Homo sapiens: one gene and its partner. The protein of the gene in region 1 interacts with the protein of each later gene in a pairwise test. Each region holds a gene or a part of one and is shown in the gene's direction. Other genes may lie near its edges.

Region 1 (5,232 bases):
AGGTGCTGGGATTACAGGTGTGAGCCACCGCGCCTGGCCTCCTGTGTTTAACATATATACTGTTGTTGTCATTGTGGGGTCTTTTTGTTTGTTTTTAAGCATTTCCTTTCTGGCACTACAAGATGCTTCAAGTTCATCTTGTATATTTCATGCCCTTGTCCTAGAATCAGCCTTTTCTCCAAGGACCAGGGCCATTTTTAATCTAATTTGAAAATTACATTCTCGATTGGGACTATTAAGTTTGAAGTAGAGAAAAATTGAACATTGACTAACTGCTGTTCATTGCATGATCATGAAGAATAGATCTTTGTCATCCTAGCACTTGTATTGCCAATTTATGAAGTAAAACAAATCATGTTAAAAAAAGAAAAAGAACAGGCAGTAAGCTCACATGCAAAGTAATTTTGAAGTTAATGAATAAATGCTTTGACTGGATGTGTGAACTTAAGCAAGTCCTATACCCTCTCTGACATCTATAGAATGAAGGGATTGGATTAGATAATCTCTGGGGCATCATCTCTTATTTTGTGATATTAGTTGTATAATTTTAGCTATTTGGTCAGTCCAGTGCAAAGTTGTGCTCAGTGTGCCCAAATTTCAGTAACAGATTTATTTTACTTTTGAAATATTTCACTAACACTGAGTAAATACATTTCAGCCCCATATTTCTACATTCCACAGCTTTTTATGAGTAGTTCATGAAAATGGCATACAACTTTACTGATAGTTCTGCAAACCTTCACAGTAGTGCTATAAGACAAAGTGTTTTTATTTCTCTTTTGCTCTTAAGTTGGAAAAGTTAAGGGATTAGCCTCTGGGTCAGTTCAGTATTAAAACAGGGCAACTCTCTAGGGTGCTAAATTTAACTGAACTATTAAGAGAATTATAATGTCTGCTATTTGGAGATGGCTGCCTATTCTTTTACAAAGTTGTGTTCAATTGCCTAATACCTTTGTATTTATAATAAGTGTATTATCTTACTATAGTATTTTGAAATAATATTCAAAATATTTTTTGGCAAACAACATCCTCATTTTATATGTGCTAATTCTATTTGGTTTTAAAACTGTTTTCGTATTATTAATAGAAAAGATAGTGTTCATAACTGTAAATACTTGCTTTCTCTATTAAACAGAAACCATTTCTCCACCGAAGGAGGAGAGTCCGAAAGCGCAAACACCACAATAGCAGTGTAGTCACAGAAACTATTTCTGAGACCACTGAAGTGTTAGATGAACCTTTTGAAGATTCTGACTCCGAGAGGCCAATGCCAAGATTAGAACCCACGTTTGAGATCGATGAAGAAGAGGAGGAAGAGGATGAAAATGAACTTTTCCCTAGAGAATACTTCCGTCGTTTGTCTTCGCAGGATGTACTCAGGTGTCAGTCCTCTTCTAAGAGGAAGTCTAAAGATGAAGAAGAAGATGAAGAGTCAGATGATGCTGATGGTATGTTTTACAGAACTCACTTACTGTGGTTTATTGTCTTCAGATATATAGCAGTAGCAGTGACAGACCCTTCAGTAAAAAGGCTGAAAAATGAACACAACCCACTAAGCAAGAAAAGGAACGTTTGGCAATCTCTAAAAAGTTGTATCAAGTATATCCATCTTGATTTTTAAATGTGTTTTCCCTTCAACTCAGAACCTCTATTAATTTGCCTCTGCAGAAAATATCTTACTATTAGGCAACTGTTCTTTTTTGCCCAATCCTTTCTAAGCCTTTATCAGAATCTTTAGTTAATGGGAGAGTTGGACTTAGCATCAGGAAGATGTAATAACCCTTCACTAGAATGTGCATTCTCTAGACTTAGTCTGTTTTGCTCATTGCTGTATGCTGAGTGCTTAAGCCCGGCGCTCAGTAAGTAGTGTTAAATGAGTGAATGCTAAGAAGACAATTCTCCAGAAAGAGCAGATTCATGTAAATTGGAACTTGTGTCACATCTGTTCAGGAGTCTTTCCTGAATTGTATCTCTAATGTGTCTTACCCAACTAGTAGTAAATTTCTCACAAATGGTAACAATAACTCAAAATAAATTTTATAGTATAGATACAAATCCAACTATTTACTTTTAAAGCAGCCTAGTTGTCATTTCTTCTCTAGAGACACTGAAACTAGGTCTCATATATATGAGCCAGGTCAGAAACAAGTCTTTTTCACCCTAGCCTAAAGTTTTGCCAGTGTCTCATGCTGCCTGCATCTGCAGTGTGTTTATCTCGCATGGGCTCAGAATGAGCATTTTTACTTTGTTGGGCAAATTTGAAGAAATCTACTTGTCCAGTCTTGGTACATAAACCTTTAGCTTTTATGCATTAACTGGTTGAACTTTTTAATTCTTTTAAAAATTCAGTCAGTTTCAAGTCTAGAAGATAAACTTACATTTTCTCCATTCTCATATTTTCTATATAACAAATACTTTTTTATTTTTTATTTTTTATTTTTTTGAGATGGAGTCTCCCTCTGTCACCCAGGTGGGAGTGCAGTGGCACAGTCTCAGCTCACTGCAACCTCCACCTCCGGGTTCAAGCGATTCTCGTGCCTCAGCATCCCAAGTAGTTGGGATTATAGGTGCACGCCACCATGCCTGGCTAATTTTTGTATTTTTAGTAGAGACGGGGTTTCACCATGTTGGCCAGGCTGGTCTCAAACTCCTGACCTCAAGTGATCCACCCGCCTTGGACTCCCAAAGTGCTGGGATTACAGGTGTGAGCCACCCTGCCTGGCCAACAAATACTTTTAATATAGTGATAAGATGAATGTGTTCTTTGCTCTATCATGAATGATTCTACAGAGTTTAACTTGCTATGTTTTGAAATAACATAACTAGGAAACTAAAAATTTATTTTGTAAATTTAGCACTTTATATTCTGTCTTAGATCATTGTACACTAAAATAGTACCCCTGATTAAGTTCCCATGGACTTAGATTTTTGCTGATGCAGCCATTTCCTTTGTTGACTTTCAAGTTACTACTACTAACTGTGCCTTTTTAGCCGTGCCCCCACTGCATCATGTTCTTGTCTTGGTATTCTTATTCTTTAAAAATTAATAGGCAATGTGAGTGTACTTAATGCCACTGAACTTAACACTTATAAATGGTTAAAATTTTAAGTTTTATGTTACGTATAGTTTACCATAGTTTTTTTAAAATGCTAATAATATAAAATTTATTTCTAATGAATGTAATTGGTGCTTTAATTTTTTCTTGTTTGTCTAAGTCTAAATGTCAGTTTTTGTCTAGGACTAAATAAATGCTTTGCAGCTATTCCCATACAAACACAACATTAATTGAACAACTGTTCACATACGATGGCTCAGTCATGGCCTAGAGTAATTGGCTCATCATACTACCTGAAGTGATGATTTGTGGAAAGTAAGAAAATCCGAGAGATAAAGTAAATCACAAGCAGAAAAAAAAAGAGGAAATAAGCTAATTTGTAACTTTTAGTAGAGACAACTTGATAAAAGTACTGCTTACTACTTATTTGCCTCTTTATAAAGTTCATCTCCATTTTACAGATGATGAAACTGAAATGTAGAGTAACTTCCCACAGACATGCAGCTGATGATGGTAGTCTTGAATTGGTTCTGACTAGTGTCTGATAACATAATGTTGACCAGGATTCTTTCATAGTTCTGCCAATTCACTGTGTGACTTAGAATATGTCACTAATTAGTTTTATCCTCTAGGTTCTTAACTTTAAAATGAAGACAATCAGGAGTTTATAAAAGTAATGATTAATAAAGTCATTTCTATTGTATATGCTAGTCTTGGAAGAAGGAACTAGAAAATGTAAGACCTTGTAACCTGTCTTTGTTTTTTTTCCTTCCTGTATAGACACTCCTATCTTAAAGCCAGTATCTCTTTTGCGAAAACGTGATGTGAAGAATTCTCCTCTTGAGCCAGATACATCCACACCTTTGAAAAAGAAAAAGGGATGGCCCAAAGGCAAGAGCCGCAAACCAATCCACTGGAAGAAAAGACCTGGTCGAAAACCAGGATTTAAGTTGAGTCGGGAAATCATGCCAGTTTCTACTCAAGCATGCGTCATTGAGCCCATCGTTTCCATTCCTAAAGCTGGACGTAAACCCAAGATCCAGGAGAGTGAAGAAACTGTTGAGCCAAAAGAAGACATGCCCCTACCCGAGGAGAGGAAGGAGGAGGAGGAGATGCAAGCAGAGGCAGAAGAGGCTGAAGAGGGTGAGGAAGAGGATGCAGCCAGCAGTGAAGTCCCAGCAGCCTCTCCAGCAGACAGCAGCAATAGTCCTGAGACCGAAACCAAGGAGCCTGAGGTGGAGGAGGAAGAAGAGAAGCCCCGTGTCTCAGAGGAGCAGAGGCAGTCAGAGGAGGAGCAGCAGGAATTAGAGGAGCCAGAGCCAGAGGAGGAGGAAGATGCAGCTGCAGAGACTGCCCAGAATGACGACCACGACGCTGATGATGAGGATGATGGCCACCTGGAGTCCACAAAGAAAAAGGAGCTAGAGGAACAGCCCACGAGGGAAGATGTCAAGGAGGAGCCTGGTGTTCAAGAGTCTTTTTTAGATGCTAATATGCAGAAGAGTAGGGAAAAGATAAAGGATAAAGAGGAAACCGAGCTGGATTCCGAAGAGGAGCAGCCTTCCCATGACACGTCCGTGGTGTCAGAGCAGATGGCTGGGTCTGAGGACGACCACGAAGAAGACTCCCACACTAAGGAAGAGTTAATCGAATTAAAAGAGGAGGAAGAGATTCCTCATAGTGAGCTGGATCTGGAAACTGTACAGGCAGTGCAGTCTTTGACTCAAGAAGAAAGCAGTGAGCATGAGGGCGCCTACCAGGACTGTGAGGAAACTCTTGCGGCGTGTCAGACCCTGCAGAGTTACACCCAGGCTGACGAGGACCCTCAGATGTCCATGGTTGAAGACTGTCATGCGTCAGAACATAATAGCCCTATCTCCTCCGTTCAGTCTCACCCCAGCCAGTCAGTCCGTTCGGTCAGCAGTCCCAACGTGCCTGCCCTTGAGAGTGGCTACACCCAGATCAGCCCAGAACAAGGATCCCTGTCCGCACCCTCTATGCAGAACATGGAGACCAGCCCCATGATGGATGTGCCTTCCGTATCAGACCACTCTCAGCAGGTGGTGGACAGCGGCTTCAGTGACCTGGGCAGCATTGAGAGCACCACTGAAAACTATGAGAACCCAAGCAGTTACGACTCCACGATGGGCGGCAGCATCTGTGGGAACAGCTCTTC
Region 2 (4,366 bases), on another chromosome or scaffold:
CTGGCTATGCTGGGGAAGTATATCCACACAAGTGGATTCTAGGCGTGAGCCACTGCGCCTGGCGGCTATTGTTGATTTTGATAGCTTATTCTAACACCTTATTTTCCTTCAAGAGACTTCATAGTCATAACTCGTAGTCAGTTATGATCCTTTTTTTAGGTGGTATCACTTTATTACATTTGTCTTATTCTCCTTTTATTTTCTGTGACTCTGCCCGCCTACTGACTACCTGTCTACCTACCTGCCTACCCAAGTCAGTGTTTCCCGAACTGTATTTATGGCTTCCTAATATGCTGCAAGTATTTTAAGTGTGGGGTGAAATACGTTTATAATGCACATGAGCTCTTTAAAGCCTCAGAAACATTTTATACTATAGAGGGTTTTTGTTTTTCATTTTCCTCCCTTACCCCAAAGAATACCTGTTTCTTTCTCATGAGATACTCATGGGATAGATACTACTATTCTAGTTTAATAGAACACAGTTTGAGATGCACCTGTAAAATTAATTTTTTTTAATTTAAATTTAAATTTTTTGAGGAAAGGTCTTGCTCTGTCATCCAGGTTGGAGTGCAGTGGCGCAATCTCTGCTCACTGCAGCCTTGACCCCCTCGGGCTCAAATGATCCTCCTGCCTCAGCCACCTGAGTAGCTGGGACCATAGGCATGCACCATCACACCTAGCTAATTTTTGTATTTTTTATAGAGACAGAGTTTTGCCATGTTGCCCAGGCTGGTCTTGAACTTCTCAGCTGAAGTGATCTACCCACCTTGGTATCCCAAAGTGTTGGGATTACAGGCATGAGCCACTATGTCTGGATTTATTTTATTTAAAAATAACTTTAGGCCAGGCGCGGTGGCTCATGCCTGTAATCCCAGCACTTTGGGAGGCCAAGGCGGATGGGTGACCTGAGGTCAGGAATTCAAGACCAGCCTGGCAAACATGGTGAAACTTTGTCTCTACAAAAATACATTTGCTGGGCACGATGGCGGGTACCTGTAATCCCAGTACTCGGAAGGCTGAGGTGGAAGAATCGCTTGAACCCGGGAGGCGGAGGTTGCAGTGAGCTGAGATCGCTCCACTGCACTCCAGCCTGGGCGACAGAGCAAGACTCTGTCTCAAACAACAACAACAACAACAACAACAACAAAAACAAAAACAACAAACTGTGCTCAGGACACAGTGCCTGAAGTTTTTTTGGTTTGGCCACTTTTATTTCCTACCACTTAAATACCTTTTCTTCAGTTCTTGTTATAACCTTCTCACTCATTTGATCACTTCATGTCTTGTATTAATGTTTATTACTTCCATTTATATTTTAGAGATAATTATGTTCTCTTTATTAGATTATACATCTCTTGAAGGCAGAAAGTTTTCCTGTGACTACAGCAGTATGTGTGTTCACACTTAAAATTAGATGTATTCTGAAAAACATTTTATTGACTCCAAGATGCCATCATTTGTAAAATGAATTATTATTTTGTATACTGCTAAGAATGAAAAAAATGCCAGTTAACCTCTGTGAGACCTTTCCTAATTCCAGTGGCATACTATACAAATGTAAAACAAACATTATGAGTCTTAGAGTCATTGAAATATGGTCCATCTATTTAGGCTGACTTTCGTTTCACAACTGTCTGTTCCCTGGAAAGCATGTCTGAAGAAAGATTTTAAAGCAGATTATTGTCTCTTGTAGTAACATTATTATAGGTTGCATTCCTGCCTAAGGACTTAGCATGAAAAATCTTAGCTACAGCCAACAGAGATGCTACCATAAACCTATAGTAATTATAGTTAAATTATGTTCTACTTCCTATGGAGTAGGGATAATCATTATGTATTTTGGTTTGTAATATATGTTGTATATCTATAATATACACAAATACTACCTTACTGTATTATCATTTTGACCTAAAATGTGCTGAGTTTATGTTAAATATTGATGTTCCTCATGATTCTATCCATTAACCTCTCCCTCAGTACTTTTTTTTTTTTTTTTTTTTTTTAAGACAAAGTCTCGCTCTGTCGCCCAGGCTGGAGTGCAGTGGTGTGATCTCAGTTCACTGCAAGCTCTGCCTCCCGGGTTCACACCATTTTCCTGCCTCAGCCTCCTGAGTAGCTGGGACTACAGGCGCCTGCCACCATGCCTGACTAATTTTTTGTATTTTTTAGTGGAGACAGGGTTTCACCATGTTAGCCAGGATGGTCTCAATCTCCTGACTTCGTGATCCGCCTGCCTTGGCCTCCCAAAGTGCTGGGATTACAGGCGTGAGTCACTGCACCCAGCCCTCCCTCAATACTTTGTTTAAACACCAATTTGGTCCAGCCTCAAATTTTGAAAATCTCTCTCTGGAGATGCAGATCTGTGTTGTCTTTTGCCTCCTTGAATATCTTTTTGGCCCTAAGTTTCAGAACTTACCAAGCTGTAGTATTTGTCTACCGTTAACTAACTATTATGCTATTGCAGAAAAGTTGTTAAGAGCTCTAGACTCAATCTGCAGCCCACTGCTTATTAACTCTGTGACTTCGGGCAGGTTATTTACCTTTCTGGGTCTCAGTTTCCTCATCTGTAAAATTGAGATAATAATAATACTCGTGGGTTTGTTGTGAGGACCAAAGTAATTAATTCATATAAAGTATTTAAAAAGGTCCCTGGCACATAGTAAATGGTCAATAAATATCAGCCTCTTTTTATTATTACTGTTATTGTCATCTAGAGATCTAGCTTTCCAGTATGTTCTCTTTGTTGTTTATAATAATCAGGAGATCTGCAGGAGACAATGGGTGAACTCTAGATGGTTTGAATAGATTCTCTTTGAGGTACCAATTCTAAAATGTTTGCTATTCCTTGAATATAGGAAATGCTAAAAACAATATGTGATTAAATACCAAGTGAATAGAGTAATAGTACAGTTTGAAGTTTGGGGTGTTAATAAATGATCAGAATATCATGGCTTAGCTTCCTGAAGGAGGTTTTTTTTTTTTTTTTTTTTTTTGAGACAAGGTCTTGCTCTGTTGCCCAGGTTCTAGAGTGCAGTGGTGCATGATCACGGCTCATTGCAGCCTCGATCTTGAGGGTCCAAGTGATTCTCCCACCTCGGCCTCCCAAAGTGCTGTTACTACAGGTATGACCCACCACGCCTGGCCTCTGAAGGAGATTTATATAAGTAGAACAATGGCAAGTAGGAAATTAGAAGTATTACTTTATTATTAATTTGGGCTTTTGGCCAAAATACCAATGTAAATTTGTGTAGTAAACAGGGTGACATCATATTACTTAAGCTCCAGGACTAGTCAAGGGCTCTCTCATCCTCCTAAATTTCACTGTCTTACTACTCTTTGGTTGATGGCTTTGCAGAAGACCCCAACAATTAGTCTTTTAGAGTGTGTAAGAGTGAAATGACCAAGAACAAGAACACAAACTCTTACATGTATGTGACTTTTTTTTCTATCTTGCACTTGAATCAAGATTTGTGTAACTTTTAATCTTCATTGATCTTCATAGTTGTACACAGGGTTCAATCAGTACTGTGGACTCTTGACCCAATCCGATTAGTGTTCCATCCTCTTAGAGAGATTCAAGAAGAAAGGCAATTGAGGGAAAGAGCAAGACCTCTTGTTGGTCTGGCTTCAAATCTCTAATGAGGTTGATGTAATGGCCTGTGAGGAGTAACTAAAAATATTTGGCTATCTGCCTAAGCAGCCCTACATTCTGACATTTTTCAGTATAGTCCCTGGGACTGGGTGGGGGGCGGCGGAACTGCAAAGTATTTTTCAAATTTAAGGATAAAGCTGGATGTGGTGGCTCACAACTGTAATCCTAGTGCTTTGGGAGGTCGAGGCAGGAGGCTCCCTTGAGACCAGGAGTTTGAGACCAGCCTGGGCAACGTAACAAGACCCCCGTCTCTGCAAAAAAAATTAAAAATTAGCCAGGCGTGGTAGCACGTGCCTGTAGCCCAAGCTACTCAGAAGGCTGAGGCGGGAGGATTGTTTGAGCCTAGGAGGTCAAGGCTGCAGTGAGCCAATATTGTGCCATTGCTTTCCAGCCTGGGAGACAGAGTGAGACCCTGTCTCAACAACAACAAAATGTAAGGATAAGAGAACCCCATAAGGTACAGTTAGGGAAAGATATCTTGTGATAAATAAGATTTGCCATGTGGAAAACTGACCCACCATCAGTGATAACTGCTATGGCATTTTGGTAAGATGCTGATGCTAATTTTGGTAACAGGAGTGTCATCTTTGAGGAATATGATTATGTGTGATTATATTAGCAGAGCAAAGCTGAAGTCTAGTCACATTGTACTCTCATATTGTAGCCTGAAGCAAGAATATGATGACAGCAGGGGAGTGATGAACTTGGAGGCTA

Evidence for each region.
Region 2: the proteins of KAT6A (region 1) and RERE interact in a two-hybrid assay, tested with the Homo sapiens proteins (one large-scale study listed by BioGRID and IntAct).

The regions. Positions count from the first base shown.
Region 1 is NC_000008.11:41,933,472-41,938,703, reverse strand, and holds part of KAT6A (histone acetyltransferase KAT6A), read left to right. Parts: intron 1-1,135; coding exon 1,136-1,448; intron 1,449-3,836; coding exon 3,837-5,232. UniProt on the Homo sapiens protein: Histone acetyltransferase that acetylates lysine residues in histone H3 and histone H4 (in vitro). Component of the MOZ/MORF complex which has a histone H3 acetyltransferase activity. May act as a transcriptional coactivator for RUNX1 and RUNX2.
Region 2 is NC_000001.11:8,806,775-8,811,140, reverse strand, and holds part of RERE (arginine-glutamic acid dipeptide repeats protein), read left to right. Parts: intron 1-4,366. UniProt on the Homo sapiens protein: Plays a role as a transcriptional repressor during development. May play a role in the control of cell survival. Overexpression of RERE recruits BAX to the nucleus particularly to POD and triggers caspase-3 activation, leading to cell death.